Homo sapiens: one gene and its partners. The protein of the gene in region 1 interacts with the protein of each later gene in a biochemical or structural test. Each region holds a gene or a part of one and is shown in the gene's direction. Other genes may lie near its edges. The genes, in order: NOLC1, COIL and ING4.

Region 1 (7,373 bases):
CACCACAACCTCCACCTCCTGGGTTCAAGCGATTCTCCTGCCTTAGCCTCCTGAGTAGCTGGGATTATTACAGGCATGCGCCACCACGCCCAGCTAATTTTGTATTTTTAGTAGAGACGGGGTTTCTCCATGTTGGTCAGGCTGGTCTCGAACTCCCGATCTCAGATGATCCACCCGCCTCAGCCTCACAAAGTGTTGGGATTACAGGCGTTTAGCCACCACAGGCCAAGCAACCGCAGTGCCATTGCAATCCAACCTGGGCGACCAAGAGCGAAATTCCATTTCAAAAAAAAAAAAAGAGAGAGAGAGAGAGATGGAGGTCTCACTGTCTTGCCCAGGCTGGTCTTGAACTCCTGTCCTTAAGTGATCCTCCTGCCTTGGCCTGCCAAAGTGTTAGCGTACCTGCGCCCGGCCTGAATGCATTTTTTTTTTTTTTTGAGACTTACTCTGTCGCCCAGGCTGGAGTACAATGGTGTGATACTGGCTCACTGCAACCTCAGCCTCCTGGGTTAAAGCGATTCTCCTGCCTCAGCCTCCTGAGTAGCTGGGATTACAGGTGTGCACCACCATGCCCAGTTAATTTTTTGTGTTTCTGGTAGAAATGGGGTTTCACCATGTTGGCCAGGCTGGTCTCAAACTCCTGACATCATGATCTGCCTACCTCGACCTCCCATAGTGCTGGGATTACAGCAGACCTGAGCCACCGTGCCTGGCCCTTAAATGCAGTTCTTTACATTCAATACAGTACTTACTAGTCTTGTTTCTTTCTTTTTTTTTTTGAGACAGAGTCTTGGTCTGTCGCACAGGCTGGAGTGCAGTGGCGCGATCTCAGCTTACTGCACCCTCCGCCTCTGGGGTTCAAACGATTCTTCTGCCTCAGCCTCCCGAGTACCTGGGATTACAGGCGCCTGCCACCACACCCGGCTAAGAGACAGGGTTTCTCCATGTTGGCCAGGCTGGTCTTGAACTCCTGGCCTCAGGCGATCTGCCCGCCTTGGCCTCCCAGAGTGTTGGGATTATAGGCGTGAGCCACTGCATCCCGCCTGGAGGCTTATTTCTAATGATTTGGTATTATAATCCACATTGCAGGAAAAACCTTCTTGTATTAGTGTTTGTACCCTCAAGTAATGGATAAGATTACATTCTTAGATAGTACATTGCTAGAGTAAAGAGAGAGCCTTTTTTTTGGCAGAGGGGTAGAGATGGGGGTCTTGCTATGTTGCTTAGGCTGGTCTTGAACTCCTGGCATCCAGTGATCCTCCTGTCTCAGCTTCCCAAAGTGCTGAGATAACATGAGATAACAGGCATAAGCCACTGTGCCCAGTCAAAAGTGATTTTTTTTTTTTTTTGAAATGGAGTCTTGCTCTTGTTGCTCAGGCTGGAGTGCAGTGGCGCGATCTCCTAGGTTCAAGTGATTCTCCTGCTTCAGCCTTCTAGGTTCAAGCAATTCTCCTGCTTCAGCCTCCCAAGTAGCTGGGACTACAGACATCTGCCATCATGCTGGGCTAATTTTTGTTTTAGTAGAGATGGGGTTTCACCATGTTGGCCAGGCTGGTCTTGAACTCCTGACCTCTTGATCTGCCTGCCTCGGCCTCCCAAAGTGCTGGGATTACAAGCATGAGCCACCGTGACTGGCTGATTTTTTGTTTTGTTTTGTTTTAGGACTTTGATCAATATAGATTGGCAGGCAGGGGGTTAGATGGTTAGATGGTGCCGCAAACATAGGAGTAGCCCGTTTTTTACATCAGAAATTGGGAAATCCACAAATAGAATATTTTTCTCCTGATTTATGCACGTAGCAAAAGTTTTATGAAGATGTAACATTTATACCAAATTTAGTAATTATGTATGTAACAGGCCACATTTAATGAAAGCATAACCAGGATAAAATAATTTCCTTACCCAGCTCTTTTTCTTCTACAGACACAGCAGGATGCCAATGCCTCTTCCCTCTTAGACATCTATAGCTTCTGGCTCAAGTAAGCCTTTCCTGTTCCATTTTGGCTATTTTCTCCCCCAAGATAGGCTGGGCTGTGTTTCTTGGTTTGGGAAGATTCCAGTCCCCTAGAAATTGGTCCAATCTACCTCAGCAGGTCTGCCAAGGTCCCAGAGCGAAAGTTACAGGCAAATGGACCAGTGGCTAAGAAAGCTAAGAAGAAGGCCTCATCCAGTGACAGTGAGGACAGCAGCGAGGAGGAGGAGGAAGTTCAAGGGCCTCCAGCAAAGAAGGCTGGTAAGGCAGAGTAGCAGGTGGGCTTGGTGGTGCCAGGAAAAGAATTTACAGCCTGCTTGTTTCACATGGCTGATTCTTACTGGGACCTGTGTGTTTGTTCAGCTGTACCTGCCAAGCGAGTCGGTCTGCCTCCTGGGAAGGCTGCAGCCAAAGCATCAGAGAGTAGCAGCAGTGAAGAGTCCAGTGATGATGATGATGAGGAGGACCAAAAGAAACAGCCTGTCCAGGTTTGCAGCTTTGGGAAGAAAAAGGGGTTTAAGGATTAGAAAGGAAGAAACCTAAAATCTTGGCCTCTAGCTTGTAACCAAGGGGTGATGGCGGCAATACAATAGGTGATTATGAGGAAGAAAATCTGGGGATTTTCAGGGAGCTGATAAAAGTATGAGGTCTGGAAGGGATGTGTGAGGTTGAGGTCAGGCTCCGAATCTAGAGGAAATTAAACCCATTCTGCTTGAGGAGTTTGGGTTCTTCTGGGACACTATTCAGGGCTCCAAGAATAAGAGAGAGTGTTTTCCTGGGAGCTTTGGCAGGATAAGGCAGGAACAGGGCCAGTGTATCAAGTGGCTGAACTTTGTTGTTTTTTGCCCTTTCCGTATCCTGTCCTTAGCTTTCTTTTGCTCTTACTGCTCCATTAGGCCCCTAAAAATAAAAGGAACCTAGGATGCCCTTTGGGTACCCGGAAGCTTTTGCTGATTTCTCTCCTTGTGTCTTTTCTAACAGAAGGGAGTTAAGCCCCAAGCCAAGGCAGCCAAAGCTCCTCCTAAGAAGGCCAAGAGCTCTGATTCTGATTCTGACTCAAGCTCCGAGGATGAGCCACCAAAGAACCAGAAGCCAAAGATAACACCTGTGACAGTTAAAGCTCAGACTAAAGCCCCTCCCAAACCAGGTACTGTTTCTGTTCCCAAGAGGCTGGGCTGGGGACCAGATTGCTCTGGGGACTGGAGTTAAAATTGCCGATTTGGCACAGGGGTGAAATGGTACTGTTTGTTGAACTGGAGGTGTTGATTACTGGTCTTTTAATTTTAAAGGTTTTACTAATAAATAACAAGATTTCATAGGAGCTAGTAAATAGAGAAAGTTATTGCAGCAAGAAAAAATGTGTATTTTTTTTAATGGTATCCATTTGGTATTTTGTGACATTTCATAGACATTTTATGTTTTCACACATCCCATTCCACTGTAATCACTTAAATATCTATTTGTTGTGCTTTTCACTGCCATTTTTACTCTTGTATGTTCATTCTATGAGACAAATGAGAATTTTTCTTTTTTTCTGTAACTTGTGATGAGGGTTAGGTTATTTCTCTGAATGGAGGTTGAAGTGAAAGATTTTAGAGGGCGTATTGAGATTATTTATGTCATCTTTTCTAAGAAGACAGTTTTATTCCTGCCATGGGATAGGAAAGGTATCCTTTGATGTGGTAAACCATGGCTGGCATTCTCCTCGATGGCTGCTCTAAAGTTGAAAGAATTGGTGGACTCCTGGCCAGGCACAGTGGCTCACACCTATAATCCCAGCACTTTGGGAGGCTGAGGCGGGCGGATTGCTTGAGGTCAGGAGTTCAAGACCAGCCTGGCCAACATGGCGAAACCCTGTGTCTACTAAAAATATAAAAATTAGCTGGGCATGGTGGTGGGCACCTGTAATCCCAGCTACTCCAGAGGCTGAGGCGGGAGAGTTGCCTGAACCACTGCACACTAGCCTGTGCAACAGAGCCAGAGCCAGACTCCGTCTCCAAAAAAAAAAAAAAAAAAAAAAAAAAAAATGGTGGACTCCTAAGTTCTCTGCTCATAGGAAGGAGGTTTTTCATGGTCCTGACTTGCCCTAATACTCCTTACTCTTTCTTTTTCTTGGGTATTCCAGCTCGAGCAGCACCTAAAATAGCCAATGGTAAAGCAGCCAGTAGCAGCAGTAGCAGCAGCAGCAGCAGTAGCAGTGATGACTCAGAGGAGGAGAAGGCAGCAGCCACCCCCAAGAAGGTCTGGACCATAACTTCTGTCAGGGCAGAGGTGACCAGGGTGTGATGTGTGTGTGTCTTCCTTCCCTGGCAGGATTGGTTGGGTCAGCATTTTCCTGTGGTAATCAATTTTCTTTCTAATGCAGACTGTACCTAAAAAGCAAGTTGTGGCCAAGGCCCCAGTGAAAGCAGCTACCACCCCTACCCGGAAGAGTTCTAGCAGTGAGGATTCCTCCAGTGACGAGGAAGAGGAGCAAAAAAAACCCATGAAAAATAAACCAGGTGACTGGACATGGGGAGCGAAGCTGTGTGACTGTGGTCAGGGCCCAGCTGCAGTAACCACATGGACCTCTCCATAGAGGTGCATGAGCGTCCTCATGACATGACAGCTAGCTTCTCCGAGCACTAGTGATCCAGGAAAGCAAGGAGAAATCTCCAGTGCCTTGTGTAACCTAGACTCAGAGGTGACACCATGTTCTGTTAGAACTGAGTCATTGATTCTGGCCCATACTCAAGTGAAGGGGAATTAAGCTTCATTTCTACAAGAAAGTAGTATCAAAAAAAGTTGTAGACATATCCTAAAACCATCACACTATCCTTTTTAAACAGGTCCCTACAGTTCAGTCCCCCCGCCTTCTGCTCCCCCACCAAAGAAGTCTCTGGGAACCCAGCCTCCCAAGAAGGCTGTGGAGAAGCAGCAGCCTGTGGAAAGCAGTGAAGACAGCAGTGATGAGTCTGGTGAGTCAGAGGGATGCAGCCTCCCCTCAGCGTGGGTCTGGAGGAGGGGATGAGGAATAAGGGAGAGAGAAAGCCTTCCATCCTTCGGTTGCTTTTTGCTTAAAGCAAGACAGAGCTAAGGCTCTGTGCGTGTCTTTGCATTCTTTTTATTGCTGTCCTGGTTGGGTTGGGACTCTGGACCCAGCATAATGCTACAGGTTCTCCTCAGATTCAAGTTCTGAAGAAGAGAAGAAACCCCCAACTAAGGCAGTAGTCTCTAAAGCAACCACTAAACCACCTCCAGCAAAGAAAGCAGCAGAGAGCTCTTCAGACAGCTCAGGTAAGGCATATGGAGGCCCTCAGTTCAGTGAGATGCTCTCAGGCAGCTGCTAAGGGCTCCCCTGAATCCAATTTGGGGAGCTGTTGATTCCATCCCTTCTGTGTCTAGACTCTGACAGCTCTGAGGATGATGAAGCTCCTTCTAAGCCAGCTGGTACCACCAAGAATTCTTCAAATAAGCCAGCTGTCACCACCAAGTCACCTGCAGTGAAGCCAGCTGCAGCCCCCAAGCAACCTGTGGGCGGTGGCCAGAAGCTTCTGACGAGAAAGGCTGACAGCAGCTCCAGTGAGGAAGAGAGCAGCTCCAGTGAGGAGGAGAAGACAAAGAAGATGGTGGCCACCACTAAGCCCAAGGCGACTGCCAAAGCAGCTCTATCTCTGCCTGCCAAGCAGGCTCCTCAGGGTAGTAGGGACAGCAGCTCTGATTCAGACAGCTCCAGCAGTGAGGAGGAGGAAGAGAAGACATCTAAGTCTGCAGTTAAGAAGAAGCCACAGAAGGTAGCAGGAGGTGCAGCCCCTTCCAAGCCAGCCTCTGCAAAGAAAGGAAAGGCTGAGAGCAGCAACAGTTCTTCTTCTGATGACTCCAGTGAGGAAGAGGAAGAGAAGCTCAAGGGCAAGGGCTCTCCAAGACCACAAGCCCCCAAGGCCAATGGCACCTCTGCACTGACTGCCCAGAATGGAAAAGCAGCTAAGAACAGTGAGGAGGAGGAAGAAGAAAAGAAAAAGGCGGCAGTGGTAGTTTCCAAATCAGGTCTGTACCCAATGAACATGCCCTCTGGGTTTTGTCCCCCCAAATCAGGATGGGATATACTCTTTGAGAGTAGGGTAGTGAGAGGAGGCCCACCACTGGGCTTCCAGTTGTGGAAACTGGGAGGAAGAACAGGAAACTGGTTACCTTTTTTTTTTTTTATTAGAGTCTCACTGTGTCACCCAGACCAGGGTGCAATGGCATGATCACGGCTTGTGCAGCCTTAACCTCATGGACTCAGGTGATCTTTCCACCCCAGCCTCCTGAGTAGCCGGGACTACAAGCATGCACCACCATGTCTGGCTCATTTTTTTAACTTTTTATAGAGACAGAATCTCACTATATTGCCCAGGCTGATCTGAATTTCCTGGGCTCAAGCGATCCTCCTACCTTGGACTCCCAAAATGCTGGGGTTACAGTTGTGAGCCACTGTACTCGGCCTGAGTCTGGCTTTTTGTTTTGTAGGTTCATTAAAGAAGCGGAAGCAGAATGAGGCTGCCAAGGAGGCAGAGACTCCTCAGGCCAAGAAGATAAAGCTTCAGACCCCTAACACATTTCCAAAAAGGAAGAAAGTAAGTTGTCTCACTTTCTTCTCAGGAGCCAGCTCTTTAAAAGTAGAAAAATCTAGGATCATCTTGACAGCTCTGCCTGGCGTGACCTGGTACATGTGCCCATGTGTATCACTCAGGAGAACTGTTACATGACCACTCTGTCTTTAATTTCCTACTTCATTCTTCTGTAGGGAGAAAAAAGGGCATCATCCCCATTCCGAAGGGTCAGGGAGGAGGAAATTGAGGTGGATTCACGAGTTGCGGACAACTCCTTTGATGCCAAGGTGAGAGAGAGATCTGTGCCATTCTTGGGAGGGAGGATGGGTAGTGTCAGAGAGGACAATTCTTGGTTCAGGTTGGTGGGAATCTTCTCTGGGTTCAGGTTTCCTTGAGCAGGGAGTAGAAAGAATAAAGTGACAGGGCTCCAGCATGGTCCTCCTCTGTGTTAATCTCCCTCTCTACTTACCAGCGAGGTGCAGCCGGAGACTGGGGAGAGCGAGCCAATCAGGTTTTGAAGTTCACCAAAGGCAAGTCCTTTCGGCATGAGAAAACCAAGAAGAAGCGGGGCAGCTACCGGGGAGGCTCAATCTCTGTCCAGGTCAATTCTATTAAGTTTGACAGCGAGTGACCTGAGGCCATCTTCGGTGAAGCAAGGGTGATGATCGGAGACTACTTACTTTCTCCAGTGGACCTGGGAACCCTCAGGTCTCTAGGTGAGGGTCTTGATGAGGACAGAAGTTTAGAGTAGGTCCTAAGACTTTACAGTGTAACATCCTCTCTGGTCCTTTTCTGTGTTCCTAGTTTTGTACAGACTTGTTTTTGAGTGT
Region 2 (6,725 bases), on another chromosome or scaffold:
AGATGGGGTTTCACTGTGTTAGCCAGGACGGTCTCGATCTCCTGACCTCGTGATCCTCCCACCTCAGCCTCCCAAAGTGCTGGGATTACAGGCATGAGCCACCGTGCCTGGCCAGGTTTCCAACCTTTCTTCTGATGAGATTTCATTTATAGAAATCCCCTTTCTTAGGAACGGTGGACAGAAAAGTTTGTCCACTGTCAAATTCTGTGCATACAGCCTGATCAGTGCTTGTCAGGTGATTAATAGTGATGACATCCACTTAGAACTTTTCTTCTTTAGGGCATCAAGAAATGGCTTCGGGGGCGAAGGTGGGAGGATCACTTGAGCCCAGGAGTTCAAGACCAGCCTGGGCAGCATAGTGAGACTCTGTCGTAAAAAAAAAAAACAAAACATAGCTGAGTGTGGTGGTACATGCTTGTAGTCCTCGCTACTTGAGAGGCTGAGGTGGGAGGATCACTTGAGCCCAGGAGGTCGAGGCTGCAGTGAGTCATGATTGCGTCACTGCACTCCAGGCTGAGTGAGCAAGACCCTGTCTCAAAAGCAAAAAAGAAAGAAAGAAATGGATTTATCTGTTCTCTAATAGCAATGTCACTTGTCCTTGATGTGGTGGTTCTGATATACATATATTTCAGTTACCCTGGTTTAGTTAAGTAATACTAGTCCCCCAGCAACATTGCATATGTTAACTGTAAGTGCATGAAGTACTGCTAGCTCTTTAGTCCACATATCACTATATAACATAAATAACAGATACGCGTCATGATCCATTACCAGTCAAGTCAGTACTTTCAGAGTCCGTCAGTGACTGGTCACTGTGCATCTGTTATTCAGTTCACATACAGAGCAGAGCATGCAGTTGTGGTGCCTCCTTGTCTCTCACTTATAAACCTGCATGACATTTTACAACACGTATAATCGAAGTAGGGAATTGGCCCACAAAGATAAAGGCACAGCAAAGAAACAAAAGTGGTAATGCTGAAAGTGCCATCCAAACTGAGTTTAAGGAGAGTCTGTAGAAGAAATAGCTCACTGTAGGAATGTTGACACTGCCAGTGAGGTGAACTTATTGACATAAATGAGGAAAGTGGTTGTGGCAAAAAGGATGAAAATGTCCCCAAAGTGACACCAGCAAAAACAAAGATTTTACAAAGTAAAAAACAAATTCTTTGAGCTATTTCACGACATTAGAAGTTCAAAGGATAAAATGTAGAAAGCAGTTTCAAACTTAGAAAAGAGTATAACAGTTGCACAAAGCATAGAGAAGATGCTTGCTCTGTATTGTAAGTTACAGGGCAAGAACACAAGCACTGTTCAAACTCCCCCTGATAAGTTTCTTACAAAGAAATAAAACGTGTAGAAGGAAAGAGAAAAAGAAAGTTAGTTCTTAGTGTTCCTAATGTAATTACAGTGTACTCATAAGTACAATATATTTATTTTACTATTTTTTAATTTCCCTATGTAGTAAAGGTTTTTAATGTTTTGGCAAAATTTTTTAAAACTCGTAAGACGATAATAATTTTTCCTATTGATTATTAAGATTGTTTTGCGTGGTTTCAGCTTGCACAGTCATTTTTCCAATCCCATTTTACCATAGAAAGCAAGGACTGAGGCCGGGTGTGGTGGCTCACGCCTGTAATCCCAGCGCTTTGGGAGGCCGAGGCGGGCAGATCACTTGAGGCCAGAAGTTTGAGACCAACCTGGCCAACATGGTGAAACCCTGTCTCAACTAAAAATACAAAAATTAGCTGGGCATAGTGGTGCATGCCTGTAATCCCAGCTACTCAGGAGGCTGAGGCACAAGAATCACTTGAACCCAGGAGGTAGAGGTTGTAGTGAGTCGAGATTGCGCCACTACACTACAGCCTGGGCGATAAAGCAGGACTCTGTCTTAAAAAAAAAAGGGGGACTGCCTGTGTTACCAAGTAGTAGGAAGCATATGTGATTTCTAAGGACAGAGCAGCATTTCATATTACCTTCCCTTGTTGAAACACATAAATTAATTAATTTTGGGGATTATCTTGTGGTGCCATATTCAATTCTGGTAGTACTAATGACAGTTCATCAAGCTTATGAAGGAAAGATTTTCTCTGATAAATGGCTGAGAAGTCCCCCTGGTCCAGAGTTTTTCTCAGGATCCCCCAGTATTGAGCACCCTGTGCTTTCCTGTACATACCCAGCCTTCACATTAATTGACAGTTTGTTTGTGGTTGTTTTCTTAATGATATAAATTCCCCATAGAGGAACATTTTTAACTATTGAAAAATGACTTACTCTCTTTCCTCCCTATCTTCTTGTTTCAGCCTTGAGAGAACCTGGGAAATTTGATTTAGTTTATCACAATGAAAATGGAGCCGAGGTAGTGGAGTACGCTGTGACACAGGAGAGCAAGGTAGGTGTGCTTCTCTTCTTGCGTTGCTTGGCCATTCGTTCTCTCTTGACCAATTACCTGTGGTTTGGAAGGTGACATTGCACTACAGGCCCTGGGGGGAATCTGACCTTCTTATGGTGTGGCAATACCAGTGCCAAATCAGGGCGCCATCTTGGCCCTCATAGAGCCTATGTGACAAGATGCACAAATAACAAACTTTTCTTTAAGAGTGTACAGTTGTTTAAAATTATAGCTATATAAGGATTCCAGTAGGAAAGGGTAGCATATTTAGAAACTTTATTGGCATACACGTTCAGAGAAGTGCATATAACTACATGGCTTGAACAACTTTCACATGAACATACCCATGTAACCAGACCCAGATCAGGAAATAGAACATAACACCCACTCCCAGAAGCCTCTATTATGTCCCCTTGCTGTCACCACTATCCCCCAAGTGTTACCACAGTTCCAACTTTTGTTTTTTTGAGAGAGTCTCACTGTGTTGCCCAGGCTGAAATGCAGTGGCATGATCTTGGCTCACTGCAACCTCCACCTCTCAGGTTCGAGCGATTCTCATGCCTCAGCCTCTGGAGTAGCTAGAATTACAGGCGCTTGCCACCTCACCCAGCTAATTTTTATATTTTTGGTAGAGACGGGGTTTTACCATGTTGGCCAGGCTGGTCTTGAACTGCTGACCTCAAGTGATCTGCCCACTTAGGCCTCCCAAAGTGTTGGATTACAGGCCACCGTGCCTGGGTGAGCCACCATGCCTGGCCCGAGAGTTCCAACTTATAATAGCACAACAGTTTGAAGAGTGACATAAAATGATGATCTCATCCTCTGACTTTCTTTAAATCCTTAAATTGCCATTTTGGGAAGTATATGGTTTATACCTTTTTTTTTTTTTTTTTTTTTTGAGACAGAGTCTAGCTCTGTCACCCAGGCTGGAGTGCAGTGGCGTGATCTCCGCTCACTGCAAGCTCCGCCTCCCGGGTTCACACCATTCTCTTGCCTCAGCCTCCCGAGTAGCTGGGATTACAGGCGCCTGCCACCACGCCTGGCTAATTTTTTGTATTTTTTTAACTAGAGACAGGGTTTCCCCGCGTTGGCCACGATGGTCTCAATCTCCTGACCTCGTGATCTGCACGCCTCGGCCTCCCAAAGTGCTAGGATTACACGTGTGAGCCACCGCGCCCGGCCGATTTATACCTTTTTAAGCAGCCAGACCTACCAGAGTTGCTGGCAGTGGCTAGCTCATTAGGTTATGGTGGCATTAAATGGAAGTTAGATTTAAGAAAATGCTCTCTTTTAAGGTGTTTATACTTGAAATGTTATAGATATTATTCTGTAAGTTTCAATATTGCAAACATATTTTTTCTGAAGTGTGAACTTGTAGAAACCCTAGCCAGACTGTGTTTTACCTTGTCTTTAAGGTAGATGACACTTTTAGGGATTTATTCCAGAAACACATTTTTAGTGTTTGTGGTAGGATCAGCAGATTTGGCCTGGTCTCCTGTATTTCTTTATTTGCAATAGTTTTTTTTGGTTGAAATTGGAAACCGCATTGGAAAATTAAACCTTGGAGGCTTTTCTCTCTATGCCCTAAACAGAGACTTGAAGTAGAATAGAAAGCCTGTAATTAGGCTGGGCACCGTGGCTCATGCCTGTAATCACAGCACTTTGGGAGGCTGAGGCGGGCCGATCCCTTGAGTCCAGGAGTTCAAGACCAGCCTGGGCAACATGGCGAGACCCCGTCTCTACAAAAAAATACAAAAATTAACCGGGAGTGGTGACACATGCCTGTAGTCCCAGCCACCTTTGGGGGTGGTGGGGGCGAGGCAGGAGGATCGCTTGAGCCCAGGAGGTGGAAGGTGCAGTGAGTCCTGAATGCCACTGCATTCCAGCCTGGACTATAGACGTGATACCCTATCTCAAAAACAAAAAGCCTGTAATTACCTTTTTTGACACTAGATGGCCCTCATTATTCATTCATAGGACCAAGCCTTAGAGTTTTTCTCTTGGTGGGCTGTGAAATAGTTCCTGTTTTTAGGTAGTGTAGGATAAGAACTACAGAGCGGCGCAAAAGGGCATCAGCAGCCTAATGATACCCATCTGGACCATGTCTAGTTGCCAGAAGGTCTCCAGGCCACCTGTCCACAGGGCAAATCAAATGCAGGGGTTGGGGGAGCTACTCCCTCCCGCAACCCCTGCATCTCCTGCTCTTAATCAAAGAAAGATGAAATATGTTTAATGTAAAATTTAGCTTCATTCTAAGTAAATGAGTTATTTATTTATTTATTTATTTATTTTCCCAGCACAGAGTTTCACTCTGTCACCCAGGCTGGAGTGCAGTGGCGCGATCTCCGCTCACTGCAACCTCCACCTACTGGGTTCAAGCGATTCTCCTGACTCAGCCTTCCGAGTAGCTGGGACTACAGGCATGCGTCACCATGCCCGGCTAATTTTTGTATTTTTGCAGAGACACAGGTTGGCCAGGCTGGTCTTGAACTCCTGACTTTAGATGATCCGACTGCCTTGGCCTCCCAGAGTGCTAGGATTATAGGCGTGAGCTACCATGCCTGGCCTCTTTTTTTTTGTTTTGTTTTTTAATTAAAAAAAATAATAGAGATGGGGTCTCACTAGGTTTCCCAGGCTGATCTTGAACTCCTGGGCTCAAGCATTTCTCCCCCTCGGCCTTCCAAATTGCTGGGATTACAGGTGTGAGCCACAGCGCCTGGCCTAAAGAGTTACTATACTGCAATTGAACTCAGTTTATTGGAACCCAAATTATTCCCGTTCTTCAATCATTCTACACAGACGGAAAATTTACGTGGCTGAATTAACCGGTATGACCTCAAAATGAAGTGCCTAAACTGGGTATTTTGTCTTTTTCCTCAGATCACTGTATTTTGGAAAGAGTTGATTGACCCAAGACTGATTATTGAATCTCCAAGTAACACATCAAGTACAGAACCTGCCTGAGTATGACCTCTCCACCTTATAGTTTATGAATGTCTTGTTTGTGAAAGTGACTATAACCCAAACTTTTTTTTTTTTTTAAAGAGGATTTGGAAGTTGTATGGATTTTTTTGTTATCTTCACTTTACTGCATAGGAAACAATCTACCTCATCATTTAAAATGACATGGGTGTCGGTTTTGTAGATCTTTGGTTTTTTTGTCAGGTTTAATTTCAGTTAACAAAATGTAAAACATGACATTCCCTGCAGATATTGTTGTATACCAGTATGGTTTCTTCTCTTTCTTTAAATGTTTTTGGCCATCAAGTAGCAGTCGTCAGTAGGAGTTTATAATACCAAGAATGTGCTGCGTATCTTGTCTCAATAAGTTTTAAGTAACATTTAAAAATATTAAAGCATGTTATTTGACCTAATTTTTTAGCATTTGAGTTGTTCCATTAAATGGAGCATCTTGTAAATTTCAAGTATTTTATACTTGCAATTGTTAAGAGTTAACAGGTAGTTGGATTTGTCGCAGACAATGAGTTAAGGAATCCTTTCACGTTTTTCCCAACTTTAAAATTAAGGATTCTCAGGTCCCTGTGTAGAGCAGTGAAAATAAGATGTGCGTATGTGTGTGTATGCCTGGAGAATTGGTGTTTCACTTCAGTGAGAGGATTGGCTGTGAGCTTCAGACCAGGAAATGTGTCATCTTGCCAGGCACCTGGCTGAGTGTGCTGGAGTGAGGATCTTGAACAGAAACTTCCTTTTCTGTTATTATTCACTACGAAGCTAAAATGGCCAAATATATACCGTGAAAATTGGTTTCATTTAACAAAAGATCAGATCCCTCCTTCAGCTGTACACATTTTTAAATAAAATCATATTGAACTAAACATCTCTACCGAGTTATCATGTTGAGTATTGCAAATTATTGTCTTATTTTACAATAACGTGAGAGATTACAATTTTCTGTAATAAGAAGGTTTGCTTTGACTGATGAGTCTGATGTTGCAAAGTTTGGTTCAGTGGAGTTCATCTGATCTGGGAGCCACTGTGCCAGTGGAGATGCTGGCCAGTTTTACTTTGCATGACATGAATGTGTTTCAAAATGTGCATTTATTGATTTGTAATGAGAAGTATTACTCCCGAAAGGATGAGAGTAATGTGAACGGTGGGATCTTGGCACTGGGGTTCTGTGTAGCACAGTTGCCTTCCAGGGTTTGGAAAACAAATTAAGATAACTAGTGAACATTGACCAAAGGAAAATTTTGACCTCAGGGTGTGTTTTTCTCAGATTATTATCAGTTTATGAGTCACTCCTTTCCTCTGTTGTGTTTGTCAGACTATGAATAGAGTCCCCAAGAAGGATTATGAAGTCAATTTAGGGGGACCA
Region 3 (3,692 bases), on another chromosome or scaffold:
TGCAAGGAATTTGGTGACGACAAGGTGCAGCTTGCCATGCAGACCTATGAGATGGTATGGCCCTGTTCATGGCTCCCCACCTACTTCCCATCTAATCCTCAGGGTCTTAGACCCCTCCTTCAACTGTGTTGGGATCTGTTTGGGGTCTGTGAGATCCATAAACTCTGCCTTAACCTATTTTCTTTAATTGGAGATAGTTTTGTACCTCTCCTTTCTCCTTCCTTTCCACCCAGGTGGACAAACACATTCGGCGGCTGGACACAGACCTGGCCCGTTTTGAGGCTGATCTCAAGGAGAAACAGATTGAGTCAAGTGACTATGACAGCTCTTCCAGCAAAGGCAAAAAGAGTGAGGAGGGGGCGGGGCTGTGAGAGGTGGGGCGAGGACTGAAAGGGAGAAGAAGTCAGCTCTTCATCTGGTGGGAAGTTTGGCACCAGGTTGGAAAGGGGGAGAGAAGAGGACTTAACCCATCTTTCTGTCTCCCTGCCTTCTGGCTTTCTCCCTCTTCCCTAGAAGGCCGGACTCAAAAGGAGAAGAAAGCTGCTCGTGCTCGTTCCAAAGGGAAAAACTCGGATGAAGAAGCCCCCAAGACTGCCCAGAAGAAGTTAAAGCTCGTGCGCACGTGAGTGATTCAGGGAGCCCTTTGCCGGATGACATCCTCTTCTCTCCCGGTGCCCCACTCCCAGCCTGCACCGCCCCCTGCCGCTTTCTATATGTCTGCGCCAAGAACTCTTCTTATCATTTTGGTATCTGCTGGAGAAGCCACAAATCATTTGCCCTACCAGGATCTCCTGCCACCTCTGAAAGCCTCAGGCTTTAGCTTCCCTTCCTGTAGATGACACTTTCTCTTCCTCTTGGCATGCAGAAGTCCTGAGTATGGGATGCCCTCAGTGACCTTTGGCAGTGTCCACCCCTCTGATGTGTTGGATATGCCTGTGGATCCCAACGAACCCACCTATTGCCTTTGTCACCAGGTCTCCTATGGAGAGATGATTGGCTGTGACAACCCTGATGTGAGAAACATTTTGCCTTAGGATGGGGGGTTGTGAGGGGCATGAAGGGAGTGGGTACAAGAGGGAAAATCCCACAGTTGAGTACTGGGACTTCAGAATAGAAGAAAGATGGGCTGGACGTAGTAGCTCTTGCCTGAAATCCCAGCACTTTGGGAGGCTGAGGCGGGCAGATCACGTGAGGTCAGGAGTTTGAGACCAGCCTGGCCAACATAGTGTAACCCCTTCTCTACTAAAAATACAAAAATTAGCTGAGCATAGTGGCACACGACTGTCATCCCAGCTACTCGGGAGGCTGAGGCGAGAGGCAGGAGAATTGCTTGAACCTAGGAGGCAGAGGTTGCAGTGAGCTGAGATCACGCCACCACACTCTAACCTGGGCGACAAGAGCAAGACTCTGTCTCAAAAAAAAAAAAAAAAAAAAAGCCTGAAAGCCTGGCGCTGTGGCTCACGCCTGTAATCCCAGCACTTTGGGAGGCCAAGGTGAGCAGATCACTTGAGATCAGGAGTTCGAGACTGGCCTGGCCAACACGGTGAAACCCCGTCTCCACTAAAAATACAAAAATTAGCCAGGCATGATAGCCTGTGCCTGTAATCTCAGCTGCTTGGGAGGCTGAGGCAGGAGAATAGCTTGAACTCGGGAGGCGGGGGTTGCAGTGAGCTGAGATCATGTCATTGCATTCCAGCCTGGGCAACAGAGTGAGACTCTGCCTCAAAAAGAAAAAAAGAATAGAAGGAAGATGGTGGGAACTGGTTGGCCTTGGGACTTCCAAGAATTCTCCAAAAGGATGGAGTAAAGGACAGGATGTTCCTAAGGAATCTGGAGGGGCTTTCTCTCCTTCCTCTGGCCCTTCCTGGCCCCTGACTACTTCTTTCTTCCTCTTCCAGTGTTCCATTGAGTGGTTCCATTTTGCCTGTGTGGGGCTGACAACCAAGCCTCGGGGGAAATGGTAAGTGGCAGGAGTTGGAGGGTCCCTAAGTTGAGTGGTCAAGGGCATTCTCCCTTTCACTCACTTTTCTCTCCCCTTCTCTGTTTCAGGTTTTGCCCACGCTGCTCCCAAGAACGGAAGAAGAAATAGATAAGGGCCTTGGATTCCAACACAGTTTCTTCCACATCCCCTGACTTGGGCTAGTGGGCAGAGGAATGCCTGTGCTGGGGCCAGGGGTTCAGGGAGGAGTGGATGGCACAGTGCTGTCATCCCTTCTCCTCCCCTCTCCCCACTCCCGGTGCTGAGGCTGCATCAGACCCTGGTAGGGAGGGGTGCCGCAGCCACTAACGGTATGTGCTCTCCTTCAGCCCTCTCCCTTCGGAGGGACGTGGTCTTGCCCACTGTCCTTTTGCCTCCATGCTGAGGTCGGTGCTGTATTTCAGAGGGAGGGTCCTTTTCATTCTCCTTGCTTTGTATTTAAGGACTGGGGCATAGCATGGGGGCAGTCCCCCAGACCTCTTCATTCCCCCTCCTGTGGTGAGGGCTAGGTGTGATCAACACTTTTCTTCTCCATTCCCTTCCTGCTTTTTTCATGGTGGGGGATCCACCAGGTCATCTAGGCTCTGGCCCTAGTTGAAGGGGCACCCCTTCCTCTGTGCCAAGAGGATTCATCCTGGGAGAGGGGGCAAGGTGGAATGCAGATAACTCACATGTAAAAGGAACTTGGGTAGGTAAATAAAAGCTATACATGTTGGCCTGCTGTGTTTATTGTAGAGACACTGTTTTAGTAAACATGCTGAGCATTCATTTTGCGTCCTCTGGGTTGGATGCAATGTGAGAGGATGGCATGCCAGAATTAGGACACGACATGAAACCAGAGTGGTGCCTCTGTCCGAGAACTTGTAAGTTCTCAACTTGGGAAAGACAGAGGTGCTGGAGGGTAGGCCTCAGACCAGGGGGTCTCCAAAACTTTGTAAATCATGCATCTTTTCTCCATAAAACATCTTTCACTTAATTTCCAATAAATGATGTATTTGTGCTATACATACGTACTGCTATACTATACATTAGCTTGACTTCTTTTTTTTTTTCCTTTGAGGCGAAGTCTCACTCTGTTGCCAGGCTGGAGTGCAGTGGCGTGATCTTGGCTCACTGCAGTCTCCGCCTCCGGGTTCAAGTGATTCTCCTGCCTCAGTCTTACAAGTAGCTGGGACTACAGGCACATGCTACCACGCCCAGCTAATTTTGTATTTTTAGTAGAGACAGGGTTTCACCGTGTTGGCCAGGATGGTCTCCATCTCTTGACCTCATGATCTGCCTGCCTTGGCCTCCCAAAGTGCTGGGATTACAGGCGTGAGCCACAGCACCCAAGCTGATTTCTTTTTTTCATTTTTTAAAATTTTTTTTAAAGTAGGCCAGGCCCGGTAGCTCACGCCTGTAATCCCAACACTTTGGGAGGCCAAGGGAGGTGGATCACCTGAGGTCAGGAGTTCAAGACTAGCCTGGCCAACATGGCGAAACCCGGTCTCGGCCAAAAATACAAAAATTAGCTGGGCGTGGTCATGGGTGCCTGTAATCCCAGCTACTCGAGAGGGTGAGGCAGGAGAATCGCTTGAACCTGGGAGGCAGAGGTTGCAGTGAGCTGAGATTGTACCACTGCACTCCAGCCTGGGCGATAGAGTGAGACTCCGTCTCAAAAAAATAAATAGGCTGGGTGCGGTGGCTCACACCTGTAATCCCAGCACTCTGGGAG

What was found.
Region 2: the proteins of NOLC1 (region 1) and COIL form a complex in vitro, tested with the Homo sapiens proteins (one study listed by BioGRID).
Region 3: the proteins of NOLC1 (region 1) and ING4 form a complex in vitro, tested with the Homo sapiens proteins (one study listed by BioGRID).

The regions. Positions count from the first base shown.
Region 1 is NC_000010.11:102,155,096-102,162,468, forward strand, and holds part of NOLC1 (nucleolar and coiled-body phosphoprotein 1), read left to right. Parts: intron 1-1,923; coding exon 1,924-1,979; intron 1,980-2,090; coding exon of another isoform or gene 2,091-2,093; coding exon 2,094-2,233; intron 2,234-2,335; coding exon 2,336-2,460; intron 2,461-2,953; coding exon 2,954-3,119; intron 3,120-4,097; coding exon 4,098-4,213; coding exon of another isoform or gene 4,214-4,243; intron 4,244-4,337; coding exon 4,338-4,473; intron 4,474-4,800; coding exon 4,801-4,929; intron 4,930-5,137; coding exon 5,138-5,248; intron 5,249-5,356; coding exon 5,357-5,998; intron 5,999-6,460; coding exon 6,461-6,567; intron 6,568-6,737; coding exon 6,738-6,830; intron 6,831-7,015; coding exon 7,016-7,174; 3' UTR 7,175-7,373. UniProt on the Homo sapiens protein: Nucleolar protein that acts as a regulator of RNA polymerase I by connecting RNA polymerase I with enzymes responsible for ribosomal processing and modification.
Region 2 is NC_000017.11:56,937,699-56,944,423, reverse strand, and holds the end of COIL (coilin), read left to right. Parts: intron 1-2,300; coding exon 2,301-2,389; intron 2,390-5,269; coding exon 5,270-5,353; 3' UTR 5,354-6,225; downstream 6,226-6,725. UniProt on the Homo sapiens protein: Component of nuclear coiled bodies, also known as Cajal bodies or CBs, which are involved in the modification and assembly of nucleoplasmic snRNPs.
Region 3 is NC_000012.12:6,649,592-6,653,283, reverse strand, and holds the end of ING4 (inhibitor of growth protein 4), read left to right. Parts: coding exon 1-54; intron 55-233; coding exon 234-348; intron 349-513; coding exon of another isoform or gene 514-516; coding exon 517-622; intron 623-865; coding exon 866-1,013; intron 1,014-1,898; coding exon 1,899-1,960; intron 1,961-2,049; coding exon 2,050-2,089; 3' UTR 2,090-2,983; downstream 2,984-3,692.